Regions from separate parts of the Homo sapiens genome. Here region 2 is linked to region 1. The links come from fine-mapping of genetic effects on gene expression. Tissue or cell type: blood mononuclear cells. Region 1 holds a variant in brackets; the other region holds the start of a gene. All regions are shown on one strand. Distances are between the middles of the regions.

The links. PIP is the estimated chance that this variant, and not a neighbour inherited with it, causes the effect.
Region 2: NAV1 starts here. The variant in region 1 is fine-mapped to the expression of NAV1 in blood mononuclear cells (TOPMed, PIP above 0.99). The same link has a PIP of 0.9 or more in monocytes.

What each region holds. Positions count from the first base shown.
Region 1 is chr1:201,711,153-201,719,254 of GRCh38, forward strand. NAV1 (neuron navigator 1) reads left to right here. Exons shown (of 34, transcript NM_001389617.1): 6 at 1,665-1,767; 7 at 7,238-7,603. All of the region lies in intron 2 of IPO9-AS1 (IPO9 antisense RNA 1), which reads right to left. Among named protein-coding and RNA genes, the nearest start is that of MIR5191, 4.3 kb to the right of the region's middle. RefSeq lists enhancers at 1,777-2,465, 2,309-2,603. The variant A/C (reference allele first, on the strand shown) is at 4,902.
Region 2 is chr1:201,536,040-201,544,124 of GRCh38, forward strand. NAV1 (neuron navigator 1) reads left to right here and starts at 3,088. Exons shown (of 34, transcript NM_001389617.1): 1 at 3,088-3,303. LOC124904484 (a long non-coding RNA gene) reads right to left here and starts at 4,106. Exons shown (of 2, transcript XR_007066793.1): 1 at 3,980-4,106.

The DNA of each region.
Region 1 (8,102 bases):
GGACTGGGGATAGAGCTTAGGCCACTGGCATGGTGGCCTGCCATTTGTCCCTGATCCTTGCCACCAGCATGGAGGCCTGGATTCATGGTGCTGACCATGAGAGGATGTGGGGGTGGAGAAGCTCCCCCTGGGAGGGGAAAGGAGGGATGGCTGGGCTTGGGTGTGGAGCTGGTTCTCAGAAAAGGTGCCCAAAAGGCTCTGGAGAGGGCATTGCAGGCTCCCTGCCCGCCCCACCCAGCCTCCCCTCCCTGACAAGACAGTCAAGCAGCTGCCTGCCAGCCGGCCTGAGCTTAGTCTTGGGGGAATAAAAACCTCTTGAAGAGATTCAGAAATGTTCCCTTTGGCAGCTAAAAAAAACCTTACACTCCTGCTGAGTCTGTGGGCTGAGGAGGGACTGAGGGGGCGTTTGGCCTCTGCAGCAGCGGCAGAAGGCTTGCGGATGGAGGGGAAAAGGGAGCAGCCTGGAGAGCCAGAGTTCTTGGGTTTTCTCTGTTGTTTTGCCATCATCTTTCTGTCACTCCCTGACTCTCTCCTGCAGATTGTCTTTTAGGGAGGTACTGGGGGACTTGGTTCCATTCATGACTTTAGGTTCCAAAATGAAAGATAAGCCATGGGGCAGGGCCAGCTTCTCTTCATTATACTGTCCTTAGGGCCCAGGGTGGTGCCTGATGTGAAGTAAGTGCTTGATAAAGATTCATTGGATGAACTGAAGGAAGGAAGAACATTCTTTGAGTTCCTTCATGCTCAAGCACCTCTCAGTCATTTGGACGTTATTTTCACCCTGTTTGCTGTTGTAGATTCTCATCCGTCCAGGCTAATATCTGGACACCAGGGTTGAATACAATGGCTCTTGGTGATTTGGGATTCTGAGGATTGGGCCACACCCATGCATCCTTCTCACTCAGGATTGCACCACTTGTGTGGGGACTGCCCAGAGCTCACTTCAAGCTCCAGAAAATGACTGCTCATCCCTTCCACCTCCCACCAGCCACCTCACCTTTAGGAGACTATATCTGAACTAACTTCCTGGGACCCCATAGAGCAACCCCAGATATTACCAGTCAGTGCCTGGGTTTAGGTGTACTGAAGCCAGCTTGTACCAGTTCCCCAGAGCCAATTGTTAGCCCCTCTTCCTAACTCTGTGGTCAGTGACATCAGATTGGTAGATTGAAAGTGGCCATGATAGGAGGCTTTATACCAGGGAAATTGGCAAACACCACACATCGGTGTCCCCTTCCTCCGAAAGCCAGTTGTTAAACATTTACCAGCACAACCCTGGATAGGGGGTTTCAGGCAGATGTTCCAGCTCATCTCAACCACGAGAAATCTTGCCCAGGACCTCTGCTATGAGAAGCAGGGCCTCCCCAAAACAAAGCCAGAGGTAGAGGCAGTTCCTTGGGGGCTCTGAAAGGAGTGCACAGACACAGAAAGCCATGCCTGTACCCCCTGCCAGGATCTGGGGTTCAGAGGGCTCAATGGCACATGTCCAGGGCCTTTGAGAGGGCCCATTCTGTTGGTTGTCTTTGGGAAAGGGAGGAGGAAGGTGACTATCATGGCCCAGGGACTAGCCTCCTGGGGACACTGTCAATCTCCACTTCCTGACCCCCAGGATCCCAGCATTAAGTTCTCTTCACTCACCCAGCTCTTCCTTCTCTCCCTACCAGACCCAGAGTCCCAGAGAAAGAGGACAGTGCAGAATGTCCTGGATCTCCGGCAGAACCTGGAAGAGACCATGTCCAGCCTGCGAGGGTCCCAGGTGACTCACAGGTAAGCTCGAGCTGCAGAGAGGGTCATGCCCTCTGCCTTCCTGGCTCTCCACCCCATTCTGGAGGGCAGGGCCCCCGGGTCCCTCCACACCTCTGCCAGGTCAGCCAGGTGGCCTGATGCGTGGAGCCACTGCAGAAGGAGGAGGAAATCCATTTATCTCAACAAGAGAAGCTTGGCTTTGTCTTCTGTCTGCTTGTGCCTGAACATTTCATTTCATTTCAGCAAATCAGCTTGAAAATCACTAGCTTAGGAGCCAGGAAGTGGAAGCCATTACACAGCTCAATGTGTGATCTTTGATAGTCAGTCTCCTTCATTAGACCTCTGTCTCCTCAATCTGTCAAGAGAAGGTTTACTAAATGCTCTCTTCCTGTTCCTAAGTCTCCATTAAACTAGGGGTCTAGAATCAATTCCCTTCTCAACACCTGGGTCTTTTCACTCTTGTGTCAGTTAGGTGCCCCCTGGCCTCTTCTACGAGCCACTGAGGGAGGCTTGAGTGCTCAACAGGGCCCACACAGTGTCACCCAGCTCCATGCCCTGTTAGGTGTGTCCCCCTAGCCCACTCCCTGCAGAGACCTCATAGCCTCCAGCTGCATGGGGCACTCAGCCTTCCCACGGCACCTCTCTCTGGAGCAAAGTCCTGGCCACAGGCTCTGCTGTGACTCAGAATTTCCCTTGCTGGCTCCTTGGACTGCCCAGATGAGCTCATGCTGTCAGCTCCAAGTGGGGCAGAGGGCTGGGCTAAGCTCTGGGGACAGCGGGAGGCAGAACAGACAGCCAGATTGGGAAATCATGGGGGGTGTGGGGCAGGAAGGCTGTGTGAGGGCTAGGAAGCCTCCCCAGTTAGACTGGAAGTAGATTCCTCTCCAACTCCTGGGGCTGGAAAATTAAGAGCAAAGTTGGGACACAGGGGCAGTGGAAAAGGACTTTCTTTAGCCCAGGGTGTGGCCATTTGGGATTCTGAGGATGGGACCACACCCATGGACATATTTACATACCACCAATGACAAAGAACTCATTACCTTTCTTTTTTTATTTTTAACATAGGCTTTTTAAAAATATTTTGTTATTATTTTTAAAGACCGAGTCTCATTCTGTCGCCCACTGCCTCAGCCTCCCGAGTAGCTGGGATTACAGCTGTGTGCCATCACGCCCAGCTAATTTTTGTATTTTTAGTAGAGATGGGGTTTCACCATGTTGGCCAGGCCAGTCTCAAACTCCTGGCCTCAAGTGATCCACACGCCTTGGCCTCCCAAAGTGCTGGGATTACAGGCGTGAGCCACCGCGCCCGGCCAACTCACTACCTTTCAGTCACCCCGGTGCATTGTGGGATTGCAGCAACTCTGATGTGGAACTGCACTTAGTCTTAAGTAGCTTTCAGCCGTTGGCTGTAGTTCTTCCTGCTTAGATGACCCTTCTCCTTCTCCTTCCTTGTACTACTCCTCCCCCTATCCCCAGCCCATGCCCGCATCTTGGACACTCAGCCCTTTACTCCCAGACATCTCGAGTATTTTAAATGGTAAGATAAATCAAAACTCTCTGGGGATTACCTCTGCTCAGGCCAGCAGAACCCTGACTACTGAAAGGGAGGTGACCAAGGAAGTCCTGGAAAAAGGTGGATGGTGGGGGCTCCAGGACCCCCTTACATCTGTCCCTTACTGCCATCCCTCATAGCCCCAAGCCCCCAGCAGGAGCCCAAGTGAAGCAGGGATCTGGCAGAGCTTGGCTTATCAGTTTAGGACCCAGCGGATGAAATCTTGGACATCTGCCTTCCCCCATCCAAGGAAATTGTTGGAACATCTCTCAGCACCAAGTCACCCACCAGCCTCATGCCAAAGACACCAGAAAGTGCTTAGTTGCTGAGAGGGCCACACCCCAAATGACTCACTCACAGGAGTAGGAGAGAAGTAGCAGCTCCAGCCTCCTGGTGCCACTGACTCAGAGCAGCCAGCCCCCAGTCCCTCCGTTAAGCCGGACAGCTTGACCCTAGGCAGGCGCTATTGGTTTTCTGCTTCTAGTGGGAAAGGGGAGGCTTCAATCAAGCCTTTTGCATAATGCTGACTGGTTTAGGGGGAGCGTCTAGGGCCTCTGGCTTCTGCCTCCCTTTATAGGAAAGGAACCAAGAGCCCCGGAGCTGGTTTTTCTGTTTACTGTGGACCTAGAGCCACTTCCTCTCATAGGCTTTGGTTTATATTATTCCTGTTCCACACTGGTAGCCAAAACAATGATTCCCTGACTTTTTATGGCTCTTTTTTTTTTTTTTTTGAGACAGAGTCTCACTGTCTCCCAGGCTGGAGTGCCTTGGCATGATCTCAGCTCACTGCAACCTCTGTCTCCCAGGTCAAGCGATTCTTCTGCCTCAGCCTCTGAAGTAGCTGGGACTACAGGTGCGTGCCACCACACCGGCTAATTTTTGTATTTTTAGTAGAGATGGGGTTTCACCATGTTGGCCAGGCTGGTCTAGAACTCCTGACCTCAGGTAATCCACCCACTTCGGCCACCCAAAGTGCTGGGATTACAGGTGTGAGCCACCACGCCCTGCCGGCTCTTTTACTTTTTAAAGGGCTTTCTATCAATGAGCCCTTCCCTTAGCCCTGGAAGTAGACAGGATATATACATACTCCCTGGGTTAGAGAATGAGGCTGGGGGCAGGGAGGCACCTGCCAGAGTCACGCTGGCTGATGAGGGTAGGTTCTGTACTCTGCATGCTCAGAACCCATGCCAGCTGTGTGCCAGGCACAGCGCTGGGCACTGGCTCCCCAGAACACACACAAGCTTCATCCTCGGAGCTTATGGTCCAGTGTGTGCTTCCTGCAAGGCTGTTTTCACCCAGGAACTCCCAGGATAACTGGATTCCATTCCTTTTCAGAAGCCTTTACTCCTGTGCTGCTTCCTCAATTTCTACTGGTTCATTTCCCCCAGCGAGGAGAGTCTGGGTCAGACTGTGGCTGGAGAGGAAATGAAACTGTGTCCTCCCCAGAGAAAGGCAAGCCTGAAGGGTGGGTGCAGGGCTGGAATTCAAGAACTGAGGATCTGAGCTAGAATCCCCCTCACCAAGCTTAAGTCTAGAGATGTCTAGAGATGTGTTTGGGGGAACTGAAAAAAAAAGAGAGAGCTGTGGAATAGGGGAAGAGGCA[A/C]TTTTAGTACAAATAACTAAACAGGGGCAGGCCAGGAATAGAATTGAGGAACCCAGATGCTGAGTGCAGCCCTCACTCCCACACTAGTATATAACCATGGTGTAGGCTAACTACCCAAACCAGCTTCCCTGGAGATCCCCGCCACCCTCTTAGTATGGTTAGCATCATCCTCTTCCTCCCCTGTCTCATCCCATGGTCAAGGTCAGCTTGCTTTTATCAAGCACTTACTGCACAGGGCGCTGGACTGAGTTTTCTGATGAGAACTTCCTTGCTTTTTACTCACACATCCATCGTGGGTTTGCTCCTCTTTGATTCATTCTAGAGCACCAGCTCTAGGCCAGGTGCCATGCAAAGTGCTGAAATACCGTGGTGAGTGAGCAAGGCAGACAAAGTCGCACCATCACTACAGTCTCTGGCTTCGGGGCACATCGGTTTCTGTCCAAGGAGATGTGATGTCTAGGTCCACAGTAATTAGAAGCCGAAACAAGACACTGTATGAGGCAGAGCTGCAGAACACAAAGGGGTTCCTAAAGGGCTGCCAGAAGCAGGGTGCAGTGGCTCACGCCAGTAACCCCAGCACTGTGGGAGGCCGAGGTGGGAGGATTGCTTGAGTTCAGGAGTTCAAGACCAGCCTGGACAACATGGCAAAACCCCATCTCTATAAAAAATACAAAAATTAGCCAGATGTGCTCATGTGTGCCTGTCGTCCCTGCTACTTTGGGGCTGAGGCAGGAGGGTCACTTGAGCTCGGGAGGTCAAGGCTGCAGTGAGCCGTGTTTGCACCACTACACTCCAGCCTAGGCAACAGAGTGAGACCCTGTCTCAAAAATAAGTAAATAAGTAAAAAGAGTTGGCAGGGCCAGGAGGGGAGCCGCTGGGCATGGACACGGTCAGGAAGCCCTCCAGAGGGCCAGAAGCAGCTGCCACTGATTGCCCTGACTGGCCAGGGCCTCCCCCATCTTGCCCACAGGACTACTGCCAGGACCCCAGCACACTCAGTTTCAAGAGCGTTTGGATCCCTCAAGTTCTGCTGGTTAGAAAATAAGACCGTATTTTCTCAGGTCCAATAGAGACAACTTTGGAAATTTTTCTTCTTTTCAAGGAACTTGATAGAAACCAGAATGGAAAAATCAATGTCCCACTCCCATTCCAGCCCCCAAAGTGGCTAAGCAATGGATGTGTTCACAGAGCAGTGATTGCTTGGGCTCATGTAACTCATGTCCAGCCACAGATTGCCTCAGTTGCCCCAGCTTTCTTGGCCACCAAACCCCGTTTCGCTTACTTAGTCCTGTCTGGCTTAATTAGGATAAGTTATGGAGACCCTGCCTGAGGCTGATTTGGGCTGGCCCCACTGCTAGGCTAGATGGAATTATGGGTCTCAGCCTGAACCCAAGTCCAAGCCACCCCTTCAACCAGATTCCAGTTGTATTTCCTCTCTGCAGCCCGCCTGGCCCTATCTCCTTCCCTAGTCCCCCAGGTTCCCCTAGTCTCAGGCCATCCAGCACTCACCTGGGCATTGCTCCCTTGGCCTGGTCTAGCAGGGCCTGAGGCTTGAGACTCTGGACATTTGGCTTCACCCCCATGTCTGGTTCCCTGTGTCCTCTCCTTTGTCCAGTTAAGGCTGCTTCTATTCTCTGGGGAGGCTTATTTCCCCTGCTGCCCTAGGCCTGTGGCTTGGACCAGTCTTACTGGGGACCTGCCATACATCCCAGATTCCCAAAGCTTTTCCTATACTCTCTGCACTCTACTTCAGCTTTCCTATATATGATGTTTGGGAATCAGCTAGCCCTCAGCTAATTACTAGAAGAGAGGTGATGGACACACCATTAACAAAATGACCAAGGCCTTCTAAGCTCAAGTGACCAGTCTCTCCCACTTGCCTCCAGGTCTGTTGACCCCTTCCATATACCAGGCACTGTGTTCTGTCTGTACATATGTGATCCTTACAACTCTATAAGGTAGATGTTATGCCATTATCCCCATTGTACAGATGGGGAAACTGAAGCTTTAGTTATTTACTTTCCTTGGGCTCCTTTACTAACCAATACCAAAAAAGAATTCAAACCTAGGTCATATTACACAATCTAGGGTCTTAACAGTATACAGGATTTCTTCCCTAGCCACTTAATTAAGATCATTTCCTTTGTCAAACAGATAACGTATCACAAAGGTAACACACAACCAGAGGCCTCATGGAGGAGGTGGAGCTTGGGCAGGTGGGGAGGAGGTGACAGGGCCTGTGGGTGGAGGGGAGGCATTGCTGGGGTGCATGTGAGGGGACAGGGCACACGGCGGCTGTGCCAAGGACTAAGTAGTGCCTTCTGCTCTCCACCCAGCTCCCTGGAGATGACCTGCTACGACAGCGATGATGCCAACCCACGCAGCGTGTCCAGCCTCTCCAACCGCTCGTCCCCTCTGTCATGGCGCTATGGCCAGTCCAGTCCGCGGCTGCAGGCTGGTGACGCGCCCTCTGTGGGTGGGAGCTGCCGCTCGGAGGGGACGCCCGCCTGGTACATGCACGGCGAACGGGCCCACTACTCCCACACCATGCCCATGCGCAGCCCCAGCAAGCTCAGCCATATCTCCCGCCTGGAGCTGGTCGAATCCCTGGACTCGGATGAGGTGGACCTCAAGTCCGGCTACATGAGCGACAGTGACCTCATGGGCAAGACCATGACGGAGGATGATGACATCACTACCGGGTAAGCGCAGGGGCTTCTTGGATGGCGGGGGAGGATGGTGGAAAGACCACTGGGATGCGACGCCTTAAAAGTGGAGTGGAACCCAAAACGGGTTTTGGTTTGCTGTGCTGCTATGAAAGTACACAAAAGTGTGCTGTGTACACTTTGTGATTGCCTCTGAAATTCGATGTGGTTTATTCTAGACTTGGGTGTGGTGTAGGCAGGGCCTACATCCAAGGAGCTGATTGGTCAATGAAGGCGCCTCCCTCTCATTGGTCTCTGTGGCTGTCATTCTGTCACCCTCCTCCCTGGCTCTTTGCCCTCAATAAACTGGCTCAAAGAGCCTTGGAAAAGCATTTTATTCCCAGCTCTTATGCGAACTCTGTGTAGACCCTGGACAACTAAATCTGCTTTCCCATTTGCAAAAAAAAAAAAAACCAAAAAGGTTATTAACATCGTATCTGTCTACCTAAGAAGAGAAAATGAGAGCTTGTGGGTGAAATCGCTAGTCAAACAGTGA
Region 2 (8,085 bases), 180 kb before region 1:
CAGTCCGAAGGATAAAGACAGTCTCCCTGTGGGCCACGTGGAACGCAGGAGCTGTGAGTGTGTTCAAATCCTCAAAGTCCCATGTCAGATAACCCAAGAAACAAATTAGCATTGGTCCACAGACCTCAAGGCGGCAGGAAAACAGGCAAAGCCCCCAAAGAAATCAGGCTGGGGCTGAAAATGTCACTTGCCATACTTCCTGGGGTTCCCAAAACTCTCATCTCGTCGGAGGCCGGATCTGATACTCTATGGGAGTGACAGCAAGCTTCTGGGCTGATTTTTTAAAACTTATTTGTCAGGTTGACATTAATCCTTTCGCTACCCATCTTGTCCCAAAGCAGGATTGGCTCTAAGCTGTGGAGGAGGGGAACAGAGGGGCTGTTGGGTTTTAAGGAGCCTCAGTGAGGCCAGCAGGTCCTGGAGGCCACCTTCTCGGTGGGGAGTGGGGGTACAGGTGACTATGCCAAGGGTCTCCTGCAGTGAACCTGAATCTCCCTCCTTCCATCACTCACAAATCATTTCACGCCCCAGCACCTCTCCCACTCTCTCCATCCTCCCCTCCCCACAGCGAGGTCCTTGCCTTTACCTCTTATTGATTTTCATATTTAAGGAAAATCCATTTGCTAGACTCAGAGCAACTGAGTCATCACTGTGTTCAGACAAAAACTACTCACAAAGTAGGCATTTGGCAGAGGCCACTTCTGGGATGGGCGGGACCCTGTTTCTTACCCAAACAGTGCTCTGTCCAGAGTCTCTTCTGGCTTCTCCTCCCTGCCGCTCTGTCCTATCCACTTTCTCTTTCAGTAGCTTTCATATCCTCTGCCTGTCACCCCAACCAGACTGGCCCCTTTACTCCTTCCTCCCTCAACCTGTCCATATGCTATTATGTTTGCCTACACATACAGGTTCACTGTTGGAAATCTGTGAGTGGGACATTTTTCTGAATTTTTATTTTAGATTCAGGGGGTACATATGCAGGCTTGTTACCTGGGTATATTGTGTGATGCTGAGGCTTGGGGTACAAATGATCCCGTCACCCATATTGATTGGGACATTAGGAGCAGGGTGAGGGAGAACTTGTATGAGCAGCCACTCATAAGTGGGAGAGAAATATTGATCCTGTGTACTGATAGAAGAGATCTAACCCTTACGAAATTATAGCTTTGGCTTTCTTTTCCATTCTGGGTAGCACCCAAGGAATGACATCATCCCAGCATTACCAATGTGGATGGGGGCTATGCATCCAGCCTCACAATGGGTCAAGGAGTCATTTCACCTTCTGATAGTCATTTGCATACCTACTGTGTGGTCCTTGGTCCCTGGGGTCCCACCTTTTGAGCTCTCAAGAAAGGACAGTGCTTCTTCTTAAAGGACTAGGCTCCCCTTTGCAGGACTGGGAAGAGCACAAAAGGATTCTAGCTAGCACATCATTGAATGCCAAACTGGGCGCAGAGTTACATCTCCAAGAGTTAGATCTCCAAGAGTTAGATCTCCAAGAGTTAGTTACTCCAAGATCAAAGTAACAGCTAATGTTCACTGAGCATTTACTATGTGCCAAGCACTATTCTAAGTGTGTCACCTATAGTATCGCATTTAATCCTCCCAACACTCTTAGGAGATAGGAACCATTATTATCCCATTTTACAGATAAAGAAACTGAGGTAGCTAGAGGTTAAAGAGTTCAGTAAGTTCCCATGGCTAAAAAATCATTGATCCAGGATTTGAACTCATGCAGTCTGCCTTAAGAGCCCACACTTCTAGTCTTTATACAGAGGGTAAGGGTGTCACTCTGCAGTCCACCCCCTTATCCCGCGCCAAAAGGCAGTTCACTCCCTTCATGGACAAAAATCATACAACAAATCTTTTTCCCTGATCAGTTGGGAACTTCTTGAATGTCACTGCTTGTCCATTGTCTGGTGTCTCATCTCTCCAAATTCAAAGCCACTGTGGCCTTACTGACTGTGTGGGGCGTTCAGGGAGGACTCAAGGGCTCTCATCCTGACTCTGCTCACACTGATTTTGCTGGCAAAGAGCTGTGAGACCTCCCAGGGAGTAGGCAGTTTTGCTTTCTATCCATCAGTCCTCCAACTTGCAACCCCATGGCCCTGGGAATAGATCAGTCCTCTTATTTGTTGGCAGGAGCAGGGGAATCTGCTGGGTCCTTGGCCACAGCTACTCCCTTTCCAAAGCCTGCTTCAAAGCTCAGGTCATCTGGCTTCCTTCTGCCTTCTTCCTGCAGACCCTGGAAGTCCCCAAGCCAGGAGGCAGGGGGCTTGCACTGCTTCTGCAGTAGGTTCTGGCTGAGGGCCTTCCTCCCATTCACTCTCCTCAGGTCCTGTCATTTCCTCTCTCCTCTTCTTCCCCCTCCTCCCACTCCCAAGTCCCTGGAAGAAGGAGGAGGGGCATCGGCTGTCTGGAAGGTGGGGAGAAGTCACTTATTTTACTGAGCACCTACTATTTGCGGGGCACTTGCGGGGCCTCCCCCTCCTCTAAGACAGCTCAGACAGCATGACAGTTCAGTGGGGTGGAGAAAGAAAGGAGGTGGGTGCCCGGGGTCAGAAGTCGGGTGGAGAGGCTGGCCCATCCATCTGTCCCCTTCTCCTAAAGAACTGCGGCTGAACCAGCGAGCGGTACCCGGACGACATGTGGGGGAGGGAGGAAACCCGGCCTGGAAGTGGCGGTGGCGGGTCCCCGGGCAAAGGAAAGGCTCAATTGTGCAAAGGCTTCCTGCCCTGCCAGCTCGCGGGTCCGCCACCGAGCAGCCGCCTTTCTGCGGCCAGCCTGGGAGGCGGGACGGGAAGGCGAAGGCAGCAAAGGGTTACGGGAATAGCTTTCCAATGACAAAGTCTGGAAGGGACCCATGCCTCCGCCCCTCTGCGGGTTAAACTGGCACAGTGCAGGGGGAGGAAAGCCAGGGCGATCGGACGGATTCTCTCCTCCTGCCCGCCCCCCGGCCGCCAGGCACTCCCCTCCTGGGCCCGCCGTGGAGGCAGCCGGCGTGTGCCTGGGGCAGCGGGTCACGAGGCTCCGCCCCGGCCGCCGTTCCCGAGGGGACGGCACTTTGTTCAGGATGCCGCCTCCCTCCTCATTGTGGGGCCGGGGCCGGCGGCTGCCCTAGTGCGGGGCCCGAGGCTGGAGTGCGCGGCGGACGCCAAGCCTGGTGCGAGGGGCCGAGGCGGCCTGGGGAGCCCCGGGAAACTTTGTGCTCGCGAGAAGCGGACCCCGCACCCGCGCTGCCCTTGGGGATGCGCGACTCTGCGCGGCTGCGGCGCGGACCCGGAGCCCGGGCGGGCAGGCGCTCCGGTGAGTGGCCGGCGCGGGGCGGTCGCGCGGTCGCGGCGCTGAGGGTCTGGCGCTTCCCGTTTTGCGAGGCTTGGCTGGCAGGTCCTGCGAGGCCGAGACCAAGTCTCGGGGTAGGGGAGGTTGGTGCCCGAGGGAGGCTGTGGGCTGGGCTCGGGAGAGGCGCTGGAATAAATAACAACCAAGATGCTCGCGGCTTCCCGGGAAGGTGTGTGCCCTTTCGACCCCTATGGGACTGACTGCGCGTTTGATTCTAGAGTTGACTCTCCGGGGGGGCTGCCTAACTTCAGTCCCTCTGAGCCTCAGTTTCCTTGTTGTGAAATACCCACAATTTAAAGTGCGTTGAGATCTTATCATGAGACACCAGGTGCTGCGTTCTTATACTCGCACCCACACGGCAAGCACACACCCTACCCGCACCTCTGCCTTTCGTTGAAGCAAGAGTTAACTCCTCCCATCCCAGCAGGAGCCAGAGGAACAGCTGGGGCAGGTGACCTCGCGGGCCGTTCCAGAAAACGTTCCCCGCACCCCCGGGATGCGCCGGGAAGCGCCCTCCCGCCAATCTCCCGGAGGCCGTCCTCTCTGGCGCCCGCCCAGTGCGTCTGGGAGCGGAGAAAGTGGTCCCGGAGGAGAGGGGAGAGAGGAGAACGCAGAAATTGGGTGATCACGGGGAGCTCACCTGAGCGCTCCCGAGGCTTGGGCTCTGGTCCCTGCTAATCCCCAGAGCCGATAAAAACTGGTCATAGGATAAAGAAGCAGCTAAGTTTGCAGCGGGCAGAGGGGAGGCAGGAACTGGAGAGGACGCGAGTGGCGGGTGGCGGGGGCGGTGTGTAGGGGTGACGTCCACCCGGCAGAGAGGGTTCCTTGTCCCCTGGAGCCGAACACAGGAAAATCAGCTGGTGAGTCAATGGGACTTTGTTAGGATAGTCACAGGGCGCAGCTGGCGCCGGCTTAAGGGAAGAGCTGGATCCCCCCTTGATAACATGCTGTTTATCTGGCTTCCTGTTTCAATGATTGGGATACCATTGGCTCGTTCAAATTCAATGCTGAGAAGCCTGTGGGCACGTTCGTTCACTGTGCAAAAGCAGAGGGCTTGCCTGGGTTTTCATCTGTGGGCTAGCTCTTGTTCCCCCTACATGAAGTCCCCGGCAACTCACTTGTAATGGGACTGGAGACTTCGCAAAAAGAATGGCCTCCCCAGGAGGAGGATCTGACGATCTGACACTGCAGAGACCTTGGCTTCCTTTAGGCCAGAGATATATATGATTCCAGCTTGCTTATGACATTTTTTTAAATCCTGCTTTGACTTTTTGTTGGTGTGTCTTTGGGATTGACCTAAGAAGGGAGACAGAGGGAACAGCTCTATGGATTTTGTCTTCTAAGATGAGCTTCCTAGTAGTATGTGCTTTCACCATCAGTTTTTAGGGGAAGTTTTCAATCATCAGTTTGTAGTTCTCTATCTGGCTGTGTTGCTAACCACCTGGATGATCAGAGAGCAAATAATTCCTCATGTCTCTGTCCTGGTTTTCACTTCTGTAAAGTGGAGCCAGGAAAAAATCGCTACGGTTGGAAGAATAAAGAAGGTTTTTCAGATTTGGGCTCCAGCCCCTAGGGTCTATTTCCTGAACTTTCCAGGTGAAAGAGAACACCAGGTGAAAGAGAACACCATTTCCGGGTGAAAGAGAACAGCCCCTGATCTGAACTTCTTCAGCAGTTTATCTGATTTCCCTTGGGGCAGGTCTCACATTCTGCTTTGCATTTTTTGTTTTTGTTGATTGTCAGTGTGCCATGCTTTGTATTTTAGATATTTGGGTGTTTGTGCACATGCCTATCTTCCTGTGAGTACCTTCCAGCCAAACACCCTATCTGACCACCCACAACACTCAGCACACAGTAGGCACTTTATAGATGCTTGCCAAACTAATAGAATTGGGGAGAAAAACTAAGTAGCATTCAAAGGCCTCCTATCTCATTTAAGTGCCATTTATTCATTCTTTGGGAGTTAATTTGCTCCCCCAGACCCCCTCTACTTCTTTTTCCCTCAAAAGCAGTTCATAAAAATGTTGATTTGCCCATGGGTAAGTAGGCAAGCTTTGAATATTTGGGCTTTTTCTGGGATCTGGCTTCTTTGATAAACCTTGGCCTGGGGAAACTGAAAACAAGAATGCTGTTTTGGCCAGGTGCGGTGGCTCATGCCCGTAAGAGGGGCGGATCACCTGAGGTCAGGAGTTCGAGACCAGCCTGGACAACGTGGTGAAACCCTGTCTCAACTAGAAATATGAAAATTAGCCGGGTGTGGTGGCAGGTGCCTGTAATCCCAGCTACTCGTGAGGCTGAGACAGGAGAATTGCTTGAACCCGGGAGGCAGAGGTTGCAGTAAGCCGAGATCATGCCATTGCACTCCAGCCTGGGGGCCAAGAGTGAAACTCCATCTTTTTTTTAAAGGAGTGCTGTTTTTCCTTTCTTGCCTAATCTAGCCCCCTCCTGAGTCCCTGTGAACCTCTGGTATCAACTCAGTTTGGGCCCAGTAGAAAGGAGTGGCCTAGAATAGAAAAATCTCCTATCCATCTTTTACAATTTGTCTCTATTTTTGCCTTCCTATTTCCAATCAGTGTCACTTCCCTCTTCTTTTAAAGTTCTTTTGACTTCTTGAAGGGTTTGGCCTTTAAGAAAAACCAGAATGTCAAAGTTAAAAGGATCTCCACTCCTCCCAACCCCTGCTCTTCTCCCCTTTACAGGCAAGAATCAAGGCCCACTGAAGGGAAGGGATGGGCTCAGAGCTACACAACTGGGGTACTGCAGAAGCCCGCCTAGAATGCAGGGCTCCTGGCTTTCAGTTTAGGGCTCATTCCCTTTCAGCAAATCACTGGGAATTTTTATCTTCCTAGCGTTTCCATCTCAGCAGATGTTACTTACCTCTTAGCTAGAGAGAGGAACAGAAACATATTAGGGTCAAGACAGCTATCTCTGTGATGGAAGCATCTATCAACTTTTCGAGTCTCTGGAACATGGAGAGCTAAGAAATGTGGCAATACTTGGCAAACACTTCGTCTTTCTGGCCCCTAGTCACACACAAAAAATAATAATTAAAAACACTTTTAGTTCCTTCTTCAACTTAAAAATACCCCTCCAACTAGTCTAGCGAAAAACACCCTCCACAGTAAACCGTTTCCTGGGCCTCATCTGTTCCCTTAACCTCCTGGGAAGGCTGACTCAGGCCTGATTTCCTCCGAGAGGCCTGCGATTTTGCTTCCCAGCATCCTGTGACTCTTGAGACGTGAAGCGAGGCAGGATGGCTGAGACCCAGGCCACTCTGACCTGCCTGTGGATGTGGTTCAGGTTCTTACACATGTCCTGTGCAGTTCACACTACCACCCCATCAAATCTATTTGCTCTACTTAATTTTAATATGAGATGCACTAATATGCATATAAAATTAAAGGCTCTGATGCATGTGCCTCTGCCAAGGACCGTTACTAACAAGATGATTCCACTTCAAAAGACTGCAAGACTGTTCTGATATCCAATCCTCAGATGCTCTGAAAGCTTTCATAAATGGAATTGTTTCTTAATTTCCTTTTTGGCTTGTGTATTACTGGTGTGTAGAAACACAGCTGATTTTTGTGTGTTGATCTTGTCCCTTGCAATTTTGCTGAATTTATTAGCTCTAGTAGCTTTTTTGTTTCTGGATTCTTTGGGATTTTCTATACATAGGATCATGTCAACTGTGAATAGAAATAGTTTTACGTCTTTCTTTCCAATTTGAATGATTTTTATTTATTTTTCTTGCCTAATTGCTCTGGCTAGAACTTTCAGTATAATGTTGAGTGGCAGTGGTGAAAGCAGACATCCTTCTCTTGTTCTTGATCTTAGGGGGATTTCTTGATTTTAGCCTTTCACCAGTGAGCGTGATGTTAGCTGTGGGCTTTTCATAAATGTCCTTTGTGTTGAGGAAATCATCTTCTATTTCTAGTTTTCTAATCATTTTTTTTTAATCACAAAGGGGTGTTGAATTTTATGTCAAATGCTTGTTTTCTGTATCACTCGAGATAATCCTGTGGCTTGTTTTTTGTTTCCTTCATTGTGTTAGTGTGGTGCCTTACACTGATTGTTTTTCTTAAGTTGAATCACTCTTTTAGTCCTGGGATAAATCCCTCTGAATTTTTTTTTTTTTATCTGCAAAGTTTCATTTTTTTTTCCCCTGTAAAAAGACAACAAAATTTGACTAAGTGCTAACATTTTACATTAGGATGGGTTGATGTATTTAATTATACTTTTCATTATAATTAGTGTACTTTAAACATCTAACAATTATATTGTGGTAAATATGTATAACCTACAATTTACCATTTTAGCCACTTCTAAATGTACAGTTCAGTGGCATTAAATGCATTTGCATTGTTGTATAACCATCACCTGTAGCCATCTCTGGAACTTTTTTACCTTCCCAAACTTAAACTCTGTACTCATTAAAGAGTAACTCTCCATTCCCCTTCCCTCCTCCCCAAGGCCCCGGCAACCGCCATTTTACTTCCCATCTCTATGAATTTGTGAACATTTTTTAATAACTAGAAGTTAGGCATTAAAGGGTTAAAGGGCTGTATCTTCCTGTCTTCCAGTTTCCCACCAACTCCCTCCAGCCGGAGGGGCCACCACTGGCCCTGATGCAGAGATGAACTGATTGCTGGTCATCCTGAGACTCAGAGGGCACCACGCCCAGCCTCAGCGCGGGCTTCATTTCCTCTAGCTCAGGGATTCTCCATCTTGGTTGCACATTAGCACCAC